2 separate regions of the Homo sapiens genome follow, and region 1 is linked to region 2. A link means that fine-mapping ties the variant in region 2 to the expression of a gene that starts in the linked region. Tissue or cell type: whole blood. Region 2 holds a variant in brackets; the other region holds the start of a gene. All regions are shown on one strand. Distances are between the middles of the regions.

Region 1 (8,000 bases), 25 kb after region 2:
CTGTTTCTGTTAGAATTTTCACTTACATTATCATTAGTGACTGACATCATCTAATAATCCCACAGTGGATGTAAATGATTAAATCTATATGTTATCAATATTCAAACTTTGTACACATTTTTATTGAGAATATTCTGTATATATATATAAAGAAAATAAAGGATAAATACATACTGTTAAGATTGCAGAGTTTTGGAATTTATTCTCTGAGGATAAATGAACATGGCCTGAGGAGTAACTAAATTTTTTATCAGGATAACTTTTAATAGAGATTGTTGCATCAAATGCTTCAGTGTATCCATAAACTTGAATCACAATATTTTCAGATGCTCCAACACGGAATATTTTTGGTGCTGAAATGACATATCTGTTGAAAAAGGAAAAGATAAGGCTCAATGTCTTTATATGACATATTTTCTTTTACTTTTGATTTTTTTCTCTCACTTGAGAGATTCCATTTAAAATACATATATTTCCTCACTTAAAAATGATACTAATAAGTCAAAATGTACTTGTGACCCACCATAACTTCAGCATAATTTCCAAGTAGTTTGGAATTAAGACCTGAGAAGCTGGAGGTTTAGTTTACATTTAGAAAGTTAAGGTGATAGCAGCACTTTCTCTTAGCTACTGCAGCCAAGGAAGACTTTTAATCATGTTGACCAGAACATGTAAATGGGGTCAATATTTTTTGCTCAATGAAGAAAAAAGCAGTGATTGAATTCCAGCTGTGGCATCTGCTGGCTGAGTGACCGTGGTAAAGTCACTAAGTCTTTCTGAGGCTAAAATAACTTACTGTGAAAATAATCGCCTTCTTTACCAGGCTCTGGTAAAGATTAAATAAGAACATATATATGAAAAGGTCTAGCACTCTTAGTACTCAATACATGTTAAGATTTATTAATCTCACTAAATTAGTTTAAAGGGAGTGATCTTAGAAATACTATGTTATACTAGTAAACGGATAACGGAAAGGATAGAATATGAGTGAGCTGGGAAGTGCATTTGGAAATGGAAATAGTGATGATGGTCCTTTAAGAGCAAATCATCATCTTCAAACAATAATGGTAATTAAGTACTTGCCACATATCAGAGGCTGTATCAGCACTTTACATACAGCTCTTGTTAATTTTTACAATAAGCCAATGATGCTGGTACTATCATTATTCGTACTTTGCAAGTGGTAAAAGGCTAACTTGGCTAAGGTTATACGGTTTGTAAGTAAATGGGGGAGGCCTTTATATGAGTTCTCAGTTGTTATGTGTACAGTTGAGGTCAAGTTTATATGTTATTCACAACCATAGACTGTTCTCTTATTTTTACTTTTCATGTGATTTATACAATAATGGAAGTGAGTCTATACATGCTTTTGAGTGATTTTTAAAAATTATTTTATTTAAAAACTTACAAATATAAACTGGATTACTAAGTGTATATCACAAGAGTATCTAATTTGAATAGCGAGAACTACATACGCTATTACATAGGAAAAAAAAGTGTTTTAACCCAAAAGGGCATAGTGATCGACTAATTCAAGTGGCCCAACAAGCTTGGAGGGCACCCACCACCCCACCTGGCAGAATTATTCCAGGCTTCTGCCAACATTGTGACATTTTAAGAGTCTGGTAAAAGCAGGAAGTTTTTAGTAACAATGGAATTAATTTATCAGCAATTAAATCCTTTAAAGCATCTGACAGTTATCCTGCATTACAATTAATTTGGATCCACTTACAGGCAAATTACAAAAGAGAGGAAAGAATTTCCAGATTTCCAACCATCATCTGAATTCCCCTTCCCCACATGCCTAGTAGGAGATGGCAGAAAATGAGAGGAGTTCAGTTTTTATGATAATAAGATATATTTACTGAAATTTTGCCCTGTGATAAGGCACTATTCTGAATACTTTATTTGTATAAACTCATTGTGTCATTACAACCACTCTGTGAGGAACTATTACTCCAATTTTAAGGTGAAGAAACTGCTAATTAATTTTCCCAAGGCCACACATATAGGATTTATGAATTCTATAATTCACAAATTATAGAATTAGAAATCGAACCTGAGCAGCCCGTTTCCAGAATTAACATTTTCAACTGTTGTACTAAATGGAATTTATAAAGAGTTTTGTAATTAGAAAAATTTAGGGATATAAAGCTACTTTAATTTCAGTATTTATAGAAGCTTTATGTTTTTAAGTTTAGTATTGCTTTAATTTTGAATTGTGTATGGTAGGGGTCCCCAACCCCTGGGCCATGGACAAATACCAGTCCATGGCTTGTTAGGAACCAGGCTACACAGCAGGAGGTGAGCAGTGGGGCAAAGGAGCATTACCACCTGAGCTCTGCCTCCTGTCAGATCAGTGGTGGCATTAGATTCTCCTAGGAGCATGAACTCTATTGTGAACCGCACATGCGAGGGATCTAGATTGCAAGCTCCTTATGAGAATATAATGCCTGATGATCTGAAGTGGAACAGTTTCATTCTGAAACCATCCCCACCCCAATCCTGGTCCATGGAAACATTGTCTTCCACAAAACCTGTCCCTAGTGCCAAAATGGTTGGGGACTGCTGGTCTATGTGATGGTAGCCGTCAAGCAAAAATACATAGTGTTTAGAAGCCCCTAAAAGAATATTCTGGAACCACCCTTTATAAAGATTTTGGTTCTTATTGACTTATCAGTAGCATAATCTATCCATATAAATAATTTCATAGTTTTCTTTGTCTTTCAATTGCTGCAGAGGAGCAGGAGCTTGCAGAGAGGCAAGAATGTTATTTTGGCCTCTATCTGGAATGCTCTTTCCTCAAATATTTGCATGGTTTGCTTCCTCACTTCCTTCAGGCTCTGTTTGAGTGCAGCCTCCTTAAGAGAACCTTTCCTGGCCACATTTTAAAATAGTGCCCCATAATTATTTTTTAATTCTCATACTCTGCTTTATTTTTTTCTTCATAATACTACCTACCTGACCTTACACATTCTTTCATTGGTTCATTCATTCATTACTTGCTTCTCCCACTAGAATGCAAGCTCTAGGAATTGTCTTACCGTTTGCTATATCTGCAGTGCCTATCATATGTTTAGATGCTCAATAAATATTTGTTGAATCAATCAATCAACCAATTAATTAAAGTGATTGATTGCCATGTTGTAAATGGTACACTCTGACTTCTTCAGAGAAAGTGAGGAAATAATTTTTATTAAGGGCTAGTAGAAAGAATTCAGAATAAGTCTGGACAAGAATCATGGAACCCAGGTCCTAGCCCTAGTTCTGCCACCAATTTGAAGTCACTTAATTTCAGTCTCTCTAAGCCTTAGCTGCTCGTCTTTCAAAAAGAATAAAGGCAGGATGCTAAGGTAGTTGAGTGCTTGTGGCCATGTAAAAAGATCACAGATCAGAAATACGAGGGTGCTAAAAAAGAATGACATCCTAAGTATGTGTTTATATATAATATATTTACATGTATACATTTATGACAAAATGAAAAAAATTGAAGTGATAAACAGGAGACCTTAATAAAAATCCTGTTTCTCTCTCTCTAGAACTGTGACCTTTGGTCAGTCACTTCCCTTATCTGGACTTATTCTCATATATAAAATGAATAGGTTTGATTAGATGATCTGCAGTTACTTTTCAGTATTAAAATATTTCTAGATATAAGATCATTATTTTTAAAACATTACTTAAAATGCATATTATCTCAATAATGACACTAAAAATTGTGAAAAGTCAGCTCATAAATGTATGGTAGAAGTCACTACAACAACAGATTTTCAGATCACAGTATTAGATTGACTCCTAAATAACCCTGGTTTAACTGTGTATAGTCTATGAAAAACACAAAGAAAACTAAACACCAAGTTAAAATAAGCAAAAAATGTCAAGAAAGTTTATTATCTGGAGTTTCTTTTGTGCTTTTTTGAAGAGGAATTTGAATAATCACTTAACGTAAATTTTAATAAATAACAATTCCATAAAAGCTGTCATGTTGTTAGCTACTCATCAAATCAAAATGCTTCCATGACTTTCTCATTCAGAGATGATACTATTCACTTGCTGTTCTCAGAAGTAGCAAGTTATTTTCAAGTTAACAGAATCTGTTAAATTTAACTCTTCATTCGTCATAACTAAGATGCATTGAAAAATGAAGATAGCTTGTTTTACTTACGTTTGCTCCTGTCCCCAGGTTTTCCCCAGGAAGATTAAAAAACAAAGTATTCCCAAAAGGCCCATGGTTGGAGGTAGCAGGAAACCACGGATATAACACTTTTGAGGATAGTCTCCTTTTAAATAAACTGAACTTGAAGAATTCAGATAATCTGGTTAATTATTAATGTCAGAAAGGTGAACCTCTAAGTGGGAAAACTAGAATTGGAACTAAAACACCCTTTCATGCCCAGGAATACAGATAGGGAGTACTTTACAGGAACTTACACCCAGGGAATTTATTTTTATTAATACAAATAAAGGGACCCTAAAATGGGAATTTGGCACTATGAAGAGTGGCTCAAAGCTAGAAACCAGTAAGCCCATTGCTTTGGCCTTTCTTCTCTTGCCCAGGGCATTTGCTTTGATGTTGCATCATCTGCAAGCATACATCTGGCAGGTCCACTCTAATACTGATGAAGACCCACCTGGACTCAGTTTCACACTGAAATGATTTTAGAAGGGGCCTGGTTTAGACAGGGCTCACAAGATGATCTTTTTTTGGTGACCTGAATGGCAGTGTCCTTGGTGCTGCAAATGGTCTGAGCATAACCTAGCTCTGCAAAGGAGGTCTAGGGAATTGTTCCTTGGTCTGTCTCAGTCTAGAGAACACTAGGTGGAGGAAAGTTGTGACTGGCAATGAAAACGCCATGTGGAGGATGCTGTCGTCATTCTCTAAGTATTGGAGAATAGATATTCTCCAATATTTATTAAGGCATATACCACTCGTTCAAAGTTTGTCTTTATTCAGATATAGAATATCTTTCTTTTAAAGAAAACACATGTTATACTTTTCAGTGAGGATTTTAATAATTTTAATATAAGAGCTCCAGAAAAACAAAGCTTCCTATAACAATTGAGTCTAGTAATTAATTCACAATATACTAAAATTTTATCTTTATACTTTTTTTTTTTTTTTTGGAGACAGAGTCTCTTTCTGTCGCCCAGGCTGGAGTCTAGTGGCACTATCTTGGCTCAGGGCAACCTCTGCCTCCCAGGTTCAAGGCATTCTCCTGCCTCAGCCTCCCAAGTAGCTGGGACTACAGGCATGTCCCATCACATCCAGCTAATTTTTTGTATTTTTAGTAGAGGTAGGGTTTCACCGTGTTGGCCAGGCTGGTCTCGAACTCCTGACCTCAGGTGATCCACCCACCTTGGCCTCCCAAAGTACTGGGATTACAGGCATGAGCCACTGTGCCTGGCTGATTTTTAATTAAGTTAATTTTTATGATGTTTTATGTTCATTAGAATTTTTTTATTTACTACCTTCTCTTTTTTAGTACTATTTTTACCTTAATATATAATATGTACTCTTCTTTAAAATAATAAAACAGATGTCTCTAAACATATTTCTATAATGAGATATTTATGATATATAAATGAGATATTTATGGTCACATTGGCATTCTTTGCTTTGAATTAATAAATAATAAACCAAAAATATTTATAAACACTTTAATGCTGAATTCACTAGGGAAAAAAGGAGCACAAAGGGAAATTTGATATACAAATTTCACTAAAGGTATCTCTTGCATATGTCATTGAAATGACAAACATTTGCCACTATTGTCTGATCATCTAGCCCATTTATTTCAAAAGGGAATCTGTGAAATGATTAAGCTGGGTTGCAAAAGATGGGTCAAGTTAAAACAAACAGTACTTTTGCCATCATTTTTGGGAAATGAAATTTAAGAGAGAACAACAACACTCAAATCAAGGTAGGTAATATTTGTATTTTAAGTGCAAATAAGTTTGTTTGCTTGAGCTATAGAGTAAATACTGATAACCAATATTTGCAAGCCATTGTCCTGTTTCTCTGGTAGAAAACATTTAGAGAATGATGGATCTCAAAGATTCTCAACAGAACTGAAGTTTAACAATTTATAGATTCTAAGCTGTGTTTAGTCAAAATTTTTTATCTACCTTCTAAATGTGGCTCACAGATGAACTTTTGAGGCTGGGCACGCTGGCTCACACCTGTAATCCCAGATCTTTGGGAGGCCGAGGTGGGTGGATCACCTGAGGTCAAGAGTTCAAGACCAGCCTGGCCAACATGGCGAAAACCCGCCTCTACTAAAAATACAAAAATTAGCCAGGCGTGGTGGCGGGTGCCTGTAATCCCAGCTACTTGGGAGGCTGAGGCAGGAGATTCACTTGAACCTGGGAGGTGGAGGTTGAGCACAGATCACGCCACCGCACTCCAGCCTGAGCAACAGAGCCAGACTCCATCTCAGAAAAAAAAAAAAAAAAAAAAGATGATTTTTTTTCTTTATAATTTAAAATGTGACCTTTGGTAAGCCTTTCATTTTTATACAAATACTGCATTTCTAAAAGAGAAGAAACTCAGATCTGGCAGAAAGTTTGGTGGTCACCTGACCTTCCTGCTAATGCTGCCTCAATTGTCCCCTCATGATTGAGCCCAAATGACCTAGCCTAGTGCACCAGGCCCCTCTTGAGCCCTGCTTAGTTCTCCAGCCTCAACATTCCATTCTTCACTCCGGCCAAGGAGCTGAATTACCTGATTATTCCCTGAAGTCACCTTGACACCAAGGTGCTCCTAGCAGGATAATAATTTTGTATCTTTCAAATGGATATTCTTTAGTTATTTTGTACTTACTTGGTAAAATATGTCTGGACACCAATTTTCTATTAATACAAACTACAGAACTCTTTTTTATGTATAATAAAAAGATTTTATCATGTATAATTTTCAAAATCAGACAGCTTACAGGGAGGTATATTAATGGGTTGTAAATTTAGAGAATAAAAAATAAGTGACATTGTGTTTGTTATTGTTTTCAGAAATTCAGCCCATCAGATTGCGAACTTCAAGTGCCTGCTGGCTGGCTAGAGTAAGAGAGGTGATGTGACCCATAGCTGCCCCAGGTAATTTTCATGTGCCTGTTCCATGTCCAGAGGCCAGTGGAGAAACAGAGGCGTCTCCTCAGAATTAAATTATTCTAAATGGAGACACGGGAATCATACAAGTTTTGTTCAAGAGTGGTAGGCTGGCACTAGGCAGGTGGGTTATTCTAAGTAAAACCCAGTATTTGTCCCTCTGACTGCTTTTTGGCTCAAGCCCGCAGTCTCACGTTTTAATCCTTTAGGAGAAAGGCTCTACTAAAAGGCCAACTGAAATCCAAAAAGAACTACTTCAGTAACTCTCCATGGGATATAGAGGAGAAAGGCACTGGAGGCTTCGGTGCCAGCAGTTTAAAGACTGACTGGAGAGAGGGCGGAGGTGGAGCAAGATGGCTGAATAGAACCCCCCCCGAGATAGTTCTCCACACAGGAACACCAAATAGAACAACTATCCACGCAAGACAGCACCTTCATAAAAGCCATAAAATCAGGTGAGTGATCACAGTGCCTACTTTTACCGTAATGATAAGGAAAGAGGCATTGAAGATAGGGTGGGGGTAGGGGGGAAGATCTCCCTGTATTGCCTATACCACCCCTCCTCCAACCACAGGCTGCACAGCAGGAAAGAGAATCCGTGTGCTTGGAGGAGAGAGAGCAAAGTGAGTGTGGGACTTTGCACTGGAAGTCAGTGCTGCCCCGTCATGGTGGAACATAACACAGGACAGAATTCTGCAGGCGCCTAGAATTCTGACAGTGCATTTAGGCAGGCCTTGGGACAGAGGAGAATTCTGTGCTCCAGAGGGAGAAACCCAGGTCATGGCTAGCTTCACCACTGGCTAACTAAAGTGGTCTGAGGTCCTGAGTCTATTTGAGTGGCAGTCAGGACACAAGGACTAAAGTGTGTAGACTAAACATAAAATGCTAAGCACCCCCAA
Region 2 (8,000 bases):
TATGTTATTGCTCATATTTTATTTGAGATTGGGAACTTAAATAATATTTGCTGCGAGAGAAGACTATTAAGTGGGCTCTAAAGTAGAATGGTTTCTGTAGTTAGAAAAAAGGGAGGCTTCCATATTTTTGACCCTTTTGTGGCCCTTCAGGGGATTAAAAGTGAGGGGGGAAGAGAGGATATTCCTAACACTCATGTGCACTGCTATACCTATTCTGAAGCTTCTAGAGTCTGATATGGTCTTAACGGTGTAAGATAAAACAATTAACTCCCAAATAAAAAATTGATACATTTATCTTCCTCAAGGACCATTCAATGGATTAGCAGATTGTCTCTGGGACTAATTTGTCTTGGATGCAAAATTATGGAACTGTTCACTGGACTCATGTGTAAAATCTGCCGCATCTGTTCTGCACACTAGCCAAAACACATGGTCAAGAGTACACATTGTCCTAGAAAATACAACAGGAGAATTCAGCTCACATTAAACTCCAGCACCGTCACTCCAGATGGGAGATTAAGCACAAAGGAAGCTACTCCATCATCAACACGTGTTACACTTTTGCTTGGATCCAAGTCAGATGTCTCTTGGTTTACATCAATTGTTTGTGCATTCAGTGTTACTGGGACTCCTCCTACCAACTGGTCAAGCGAATCTTTAACCTGCACCTGTTTGTCAAAACAATCCAAATCTATTTCAACAGCTCATCACTTATTTTAAAGCACAATTCTGAAATAATTTTCCTTCCTCCCCACCAAAGTATAAATTATTTATGTATTTTTTTCTGAAAATTTTTTTTCTGAGACAGAGACTTACTACGTTGCCCAGGTTGGAGTGCAGTGGCTATTCACAGGCACAATCATAGCGCACTGCAACCTTGAACTATTGGCCTCAAGCCATCCTCCCACCTCAGCCTCCCAAGTAGCTGGAACTATTTAGGCATGCTCCACCACACCTGGTTTACTTATGTTTAATTTAGTAAAGAGAAGTGTATTCTCAGCTTATAGAAAGATTTAATTCTATTTAGTTAAATCATTCTTGAATAGATTCTCCCATAAATCAAGCAAACTCAAAACATAAATATCATTCTATTAAGTCAGTCAAGGAGTAGGTGTGATAAGGTCTTCTGCTATCTAACTTCTGTATTTCTTTGATTGGTTTAGGACTGGATAAAGGAGAAAATGAGGCAATCGCTTCTGGGAATAAGTCCCTTGAATATGAGAAACAAAAATAGATACACCTTTTTTCCTTTAACATCTACCTCTCACTGCCATATATATATATATATACACACACAATTCCACACAGATATAGTTTGTTATTTTACTTTTATATAAACATATTTTAAGCTTATGTTCTATATAATATTGCTATATTTACATATTTTAGTATATATATTATATATTACTGTATATGCATTATATGATACTTTGTTATATATTATTTTCTATATATAGTATATATATGTAAGAACCTACAAGCATGTCCAAACCTTGCTTTGGGCTTGGTAAATCCTTTTTTTTCTTAAAAGCCCATGACCCACAGTAAATAATAAATAACACATTTTGATTGTACTTAAGTTGATTTTAAAAAGTAACACATTTTCAAAGAACAAAAAAAAATTTTGCTCTGGATTTCTAAATTAAGGGCAGGGAATAAACATTTCCATTTAATCAACATAATAAAATATATTATTTGTAATAAAATATATAATGATAGATAAAAATCTAAAAACCACATGAATGTTTCAATTCTATACTGTCAGCATTTAGAGGAGGAAAAGAAGGTGAAAGAGAGAAAAATGAATGCAGAGGAGTAAGCAAAAAAGACAGAAAAAAAGAGATTCAGGGACGGAAAGAAGCAAAAATGAAAAGAACAGAGAGCAATACAGAGACGAGAGATTGAACAGAGTTATGCACAAAGACAACACAGAGACAGAGGGAAACAAATGAGACACACTGGAGGCAAAAACATAGTGAGAGAAAGGAGTCTATTTTCAAGGAATGATATCTCCATCTTAAGGCTTTTTAAGAATTTGCCACCAAATAATTTTAAATGTTTGTATTTTTGAACTAGAGTCTTATGAGATTTTATTTACATATAATTTAATGCTTATTTATTACATGTAATTTAATGCTTATTTAGGGATGCCTAATACAAGGCTATCTTGCCCTCACTTTTGAAGTCATTGCCAAGGCTGCAGCTGACCTTCAATTTCCCATCCCTGTCTGTGTCCACCAGGAGGGGCAGGTTTCACAGAATAAGCTCCCTCTGTGACTTCATGGCAACATTCTTACCCTGTTTGCCACCCACATGTTTTCCATGAACAGAACAAGATGATCATATGTAGCAACGTCTACCCCCTCACCCAATCTACCTTGATGGGATATGGAATCCCAGGCTTCAGGAAAAGAGGAGTAGCAACCAAATTCAGTTTGTAGGGAGAGAGGACATATTTGATGCCAGGTATTTCTGCCTCTTCAGAAAATCCACCTAAGGAAATGGCAAGCATCATGTTGACAGTTTTTAGGAGTATCATGATCTGTATGGATATCCATTTCATCTCTATATGTCTCCACAGACTTATTCATTCACTCACTCCATTCTTGCATTCATTCATTTACCAGTAGTAAGTAGGACATAGGTCTTGCTTCAGAGGGGCACAGCAGAGAAGAGTTTAGACCTCAGGAGTTTCCAAGGCCTTATGCACAAGCTCGTATGTAGAGAAGCCCTTGGAGAAGTAGAGCTACAGGACTGGACTGAGGAAGGATGCCAGGAAGGGACACCACTTTTCATCAGTGGCCTGAGTTTCAGTTGACTGTATTCAAGGGATTGAGGAGAGAGGGAAGGGTCAGGCCAGAAACTGAGCCTTACAGAAGTGGAGGTGGGGGATGGGGGTTGGTGTTCACAGAGCATAGATACATAGAGAGAAATCAGAAAAAGGGAGCTTGATATAGAAAGAACCCTGAAAGGGAGTTCGAGACCAGCCGGGCCAACATGGTGAAACCTCATCCCTACTAAAACTAAAAAACGAAAACAAAAAAAGTGCCAGGCATGGTGGTATATGCCTGTAATCTCAGCTACTCGGGAGGCTGAGGCAGGAGAATTGCTTGAACCCAGGAGGCGGAGGTTGCATTGAGCTGAGACTGTACCACTGCACTCCAGTCTGGGCAACAGAGCAAGACTCGGGAGGGGAGGGAGGGAGGGGAGGGGAGGGGGGAGGGGGAGGGGGGAGTGGGAGGGGGGAGGGGGAGGGGAGGGGGAGGGGAGGGGAGCGGGAGGGGGGAGGGGGAGGGGAGGGGGAGGGGAGGGGGAGGGGAGGGAGGGGAGCGGGAGGGGGGAGGGGGAGGGAAGGGGACATGACCAGACAACTGGCAAGAGCCCAATAATGTTATCCTCCAGGTAAAGATTAAGTTAAACTATTAAGAATAACATTTGAAGCTTTAATATTCCCAAACTCCTTTCCAATATTACATCTCTAATACATTCTATACATATCCTATATTTTAGCCAAACTGGATGATCTGCTGTCCTCAAAGATTAAGCTTCACCATCTACTCTTCTTCATCTGCCCTCTCTCTGGAGGGTTTCTATTTCACCCTGTCTAGCAACTCTGCCTCAAAACCCTAATTATTTTTCAAGACTGATCATCTTCACAACACTGTTCTTGCTTGCTCAACAATCATCTAGAAGCTCACCTTCCTCTGAATCCTATTGCATTAATATTTTGCTTAGAGCTCATATGGAATTCTTTCTTGCAACAGTTCTTTCTTCACCTGTCTTATACCTGATGCTAATTTGTAAGCCACTTTAGTGCTGGCATCATACATCATTAATGTTTGCAAGCCTGTCTGTTTGGCAATACTTTAAATATCTCATAGATACTGCTTAAACTGAACTTATTTAAAATAAGTTGAGGAAAAAATAAAAAGAAGAAACATTAAAATAATGTTGAAAACTTTAGGCTTTAGGAAACATTCAGTTTGACTCCATCATTATGTAGACTATAATAATGATAATAGTAATAACTTTTATTTGTATAGTACTTTATCAAATAGTTTTACACACATAATCTTATTTTGGTTTTGATTTTCACCACGTGAGGACACTAGGGTGCCAAATGGTCAAGGCAGAGAGCCTGCAGAACTACTTTGGACATGAATTGGGTACTGTTTTCCCATTTTTGCAGTAGAAGTGGAGGTAATAGGGACCCAATGGCTTGTCCAATGACTAAAAAGAAGCAGAGCCCTACTGCCTTTTTATAACTATATAAAAGTCTACTTCTTATAATTATATTTAACTATGAAAGAAAATACAATGTGAAATAATTATAGAAATTGGAAATTATTTATATCTTTAATATTCTGTCTAAATATTTTTCAAAAGAAAGTATACACACACACACACACACACACACACACACTTACCTGTAGACTCTATGACTGTTACAGCAATATAAAGGTACTTGTTGTTTAAATCTTCTAAACTGTAGTATGACAGTTCTTTGACTGCTGTTTCAGAATCAAATGTGACTTGAGCAATTCCATTTATCAACTTTTTAAAAGGAGAAAAAGGAGGAGTTATTTCGGAGAAGAACTTATAAGGAAAAATTAATAAAATCTGCTTTTACTAACCTCTAAATTGAAGGTAAATGTCAGAAGAATGGTTTAGTGTCAAAAGTAAAGTAGATAACC[G/A]AGTCCACGATTAAGCCCAGGATGTTATTTTCTAATTATTTGTATAGAATTATAGAAGTAGAAGGGTCTTGAACATCACATGGTCCAACAGGTCTTTTTGGTAATAGCTGACAAACACGACTTCTTCCAATTCCTGCGTCATCATTCATCTTTATAGGCCTCTCAGCGTACTTCCGCCCTTAACTGAGAGTTTGTTGGTTTTTATAATATTTAATTTGTACTTCACTGCTTACAAATTTAAATACTAATTTTAAAACACACAATGAGTAAAGGGATGTGGGGTTAAGTCATATTATATTATTTAATTATTAACACAACAGTAAAATAAACTTTGCCTTATTTTTTCTTATAAAATTGAGCGACTTGAGGGCAGGCATTTTTGTCTTATTTAGCTTTACATCCCAGTGTCTAGCATAGAATTTTGCATTTTAAAAATGCATTTAATTTACATCTTGAATTAATAAGATTGTAGAGGATAAATGATTGATGATGCAAACCAAATGAATACGAAAAAGTGAGCAAAAATGACATGAACTCATATCATCTGTGGTATAATGTAAAGAATGCTGAATAAGGGAAAGGGAACCAGCGCCCTAATCTCAGTTCCAGCAATCATTAGCCCTAAACTATGGACAAATAACTTCATGAATATTTCCTTGCAAGAAACTATGCTGTCTCTGGGCATATAAGGGAAATGATTCAGACTCACAAATAGTTTAATATTGAAAATGATAGATAAGTAAACAAGCCATTCCAGTAAAGAAGGGTTTCTCAACCCCTCAGCATTATTGACATTTTGAACAGGATAATTCTTTGTTGTAGGGGCCTGCCCTGTGCATGGTAGGAATTTAGCAGCATCCCCGGCCTCTCCCTAGTAAACACCAGTAGCAACCACAAATGTCTCTGGACATTGCCAAATGTCTCCTTGGGAATAAAAAATCACCCCTAGTTGAGAACCGCTGCAATGAAATGTGAAGAATGTGTTAAGAAAAGAGGCTATACAGCCGGGGCAGCTAACCTAGTGTAGAAGAGTCAGGGGAGGCTTCCCAGAGAAAGGCTGTCAATGTTGAAACTTAAAGAATGAGAAGGAATTAGCCAGGCAAAGAAGGGGCAGGAGGTGACAATGGGAAAGAGCATTTTCAAGCAGAATAAATGATATTGTAAAGACCTGGAGGCAAGAGAGACTTTGGTCAGTTAGAGAAATTGGAGTGATTAATACAAAGGGGAGGGAGGGAGGAAAGGGCATGAGATCAGCTGGTAAGGGAGGCTGATGCCAAGGAAAATGAACTTTACCCTAAAGGCAAAGGGAAGCCAATGGAGGATTTTAAGTTTCAACCTATCTAAAATGGGGGATTGGACTAGATGGTTTTTAAGTAACTTCTCATCTCTCACCTCTGGATGCATCTGTAGGTGTGAGTGACTGTGTCTTAACATCTTACCATTGTGTTTTGCATTGCTGTTTGCATCATTTCTTTTTGATCATCTTTTAAGTCTTCTCTTATTCCAAATGTGATATAAACGTCAGCCTCAGTGACTACTTTATTATAAAAATATCTGTCAGACAATAGCATAAAACTGTTTTACTAACATGGTTACAATAACAGGATTCAGATAAAATGTAACAATTTGAAATTACGTAAAGCACTTGAGGCACTTTAAAGTGTCTTTCATCCTAAGCAAAAAGAACAAAGCTGGAGGCATCATGCTACCTGACTTCAAACTATACTACAAGGCTACAGTAACCAAAACAGCATGGTACTGGTACCAAAACAGATATATAGACCAATGGAACAGAACAGAGGCCTCAGAAATAACACCACACATCTACAACCATCTGATCTTTGACAAACCTGACAAAAACAAGAAATGGGGAAAGGATTCCCAATTTAATAAATGGTGATGGGAAAACTGGCTAGCCATATATAGAAAGCTGAAACTGGATCCCTTCCTTATATCTTATACAAAAATTAATTCAAGATGGATTAAAGACTTACATGGTAGACCTAAAACCATAAAAACGCTAGAAGAAAACCTAGGCAATACCATTCAGGACATAGGCATGGGCAAGGATTTCATGACTAAAACACCAAAAGCAATGGCAACAAAAGCCAAAATTGACAAATGGGATCTAATTAAACTAAAGAGCTTCTGCACAGTAAAAGAAACTACCATCAGAGTGAACAGGCAGCCCACAGAATGGAGAAAATTTTTGCAATCTACCCATCTGACAAAGGGCTAATATCCAGAATCTACAAAGAACTTAAACAAATTTACAAGAAAAAAACAAACAACCCCATCAAAAAGTGGGCAAAGGATATGAACAGATACTTCTCAAAAGAAGACATTTATGCAGCTAACAGACACATGAAAAAATGCTCATCATCACTGGTCATCAGAGAAATGCAAATCAAAACCACAATGAGATACCATCTCACACCAGTTAGAATGGCAATCATTAAAAAGTCAGGAAACAACAGATGCTGGAGAGGATGTGGAGAAATAGGAACGCTTTTACACTGTTGGTGGGAGTGTAAACTAGTTCAACCATTGTGGAAGACAGTGTGGCAATTCCTTAAGGATCTAGAACTAGAAATACAATTTGACCCAGTGATTCCATTACTGCGTATATACCCAAAGGATTATAAATCATGCTGCTATAAAGACACATGCACACGTATGTTTACTGCAGCACTATTCACACTAGCAAAGACTTGGAACCCACCTAAATGCCCATCAATGATAGACTGGATTAAGAAAATGTGGCACATATACACCATGGAATACTATGCAGGCATAAAAAAGGATGAGTTCATGTCCTTTGCAGGGACATGGATGAAGCTGGAAACCATCATTCTGAGTGAACTACCACAAGGACAGAAAACCAAATGCCGCATGTTCTCACTCACAGGTGGGAACTGAACAATGAAAACACTTGGACACAGTGCGGGGAACATCACACTCTGGGGCCTGTCATGGGGTGGGGGACGGGGAGGGATAGCATTAGGAGAAATACCTAATGTATGATGAGTTAATAGGTGCAGCAAACCAACATGGCACATGTATACCTATGTAACAAACCTGCACGTTGTGTACATGTACCCTAGAACTTAAAGTATAATAATAATAAATAAAGTGTCCTTCATGCACTATTACATTTCATCCTCATAAAGCCACATTAATAAAGCTATGTGCTAGATGAAAAAAATTGATCTTGGGGAGATCACAAGACTTAGAATCAGGGCCCTCTCCTATATGCCAAATTACTTCCTTGATAATTTTGATATCAGCTACTCTCTGTTTTCTTTT

Evidence for each region.
Region 1: it holds the start of C5, and the variant in region 2 is fine-mapped to the expression of C5 in whole blood (INTERVAL, PIP 0.98).

The regions. Positions count from the first base shown.
Region 1 is chr9:121,046,017-121,054,016 of GRCh38, forward strand. C5 (complement C5) reads right to left here and starts at 4,259. Exons shown (of 41, transcript NM_001735.3): 1 at 4,166-4,259; 2 at 175-367. The coding sequence starts at 4,230. LOC124902261 (a long non-coding RNA gene) reads left to right here and starts at 6,841. Exons shown (of 3, transcript XR_007061753.1): 1 at 6,841-7,089; 2 at 7,311-7,556.
Region 2 is chr9:121,021,027-121,029,026 of GRCh38, forward strand. It overlaps C5 (complement C5), which reads right to left. Exons shown (of 41, transcript NM_001735.3): 8 at 6,134-6,248; 9 at 4,428-4,554; 10 at 2,378-2,493; 11 at 483-668. Among named protein-coding and RNA genes, the nearest start is that of C5, 25 kb to the right of the region's middle. The variant G/A (reference allele first, on the strand shown) is at 4,695.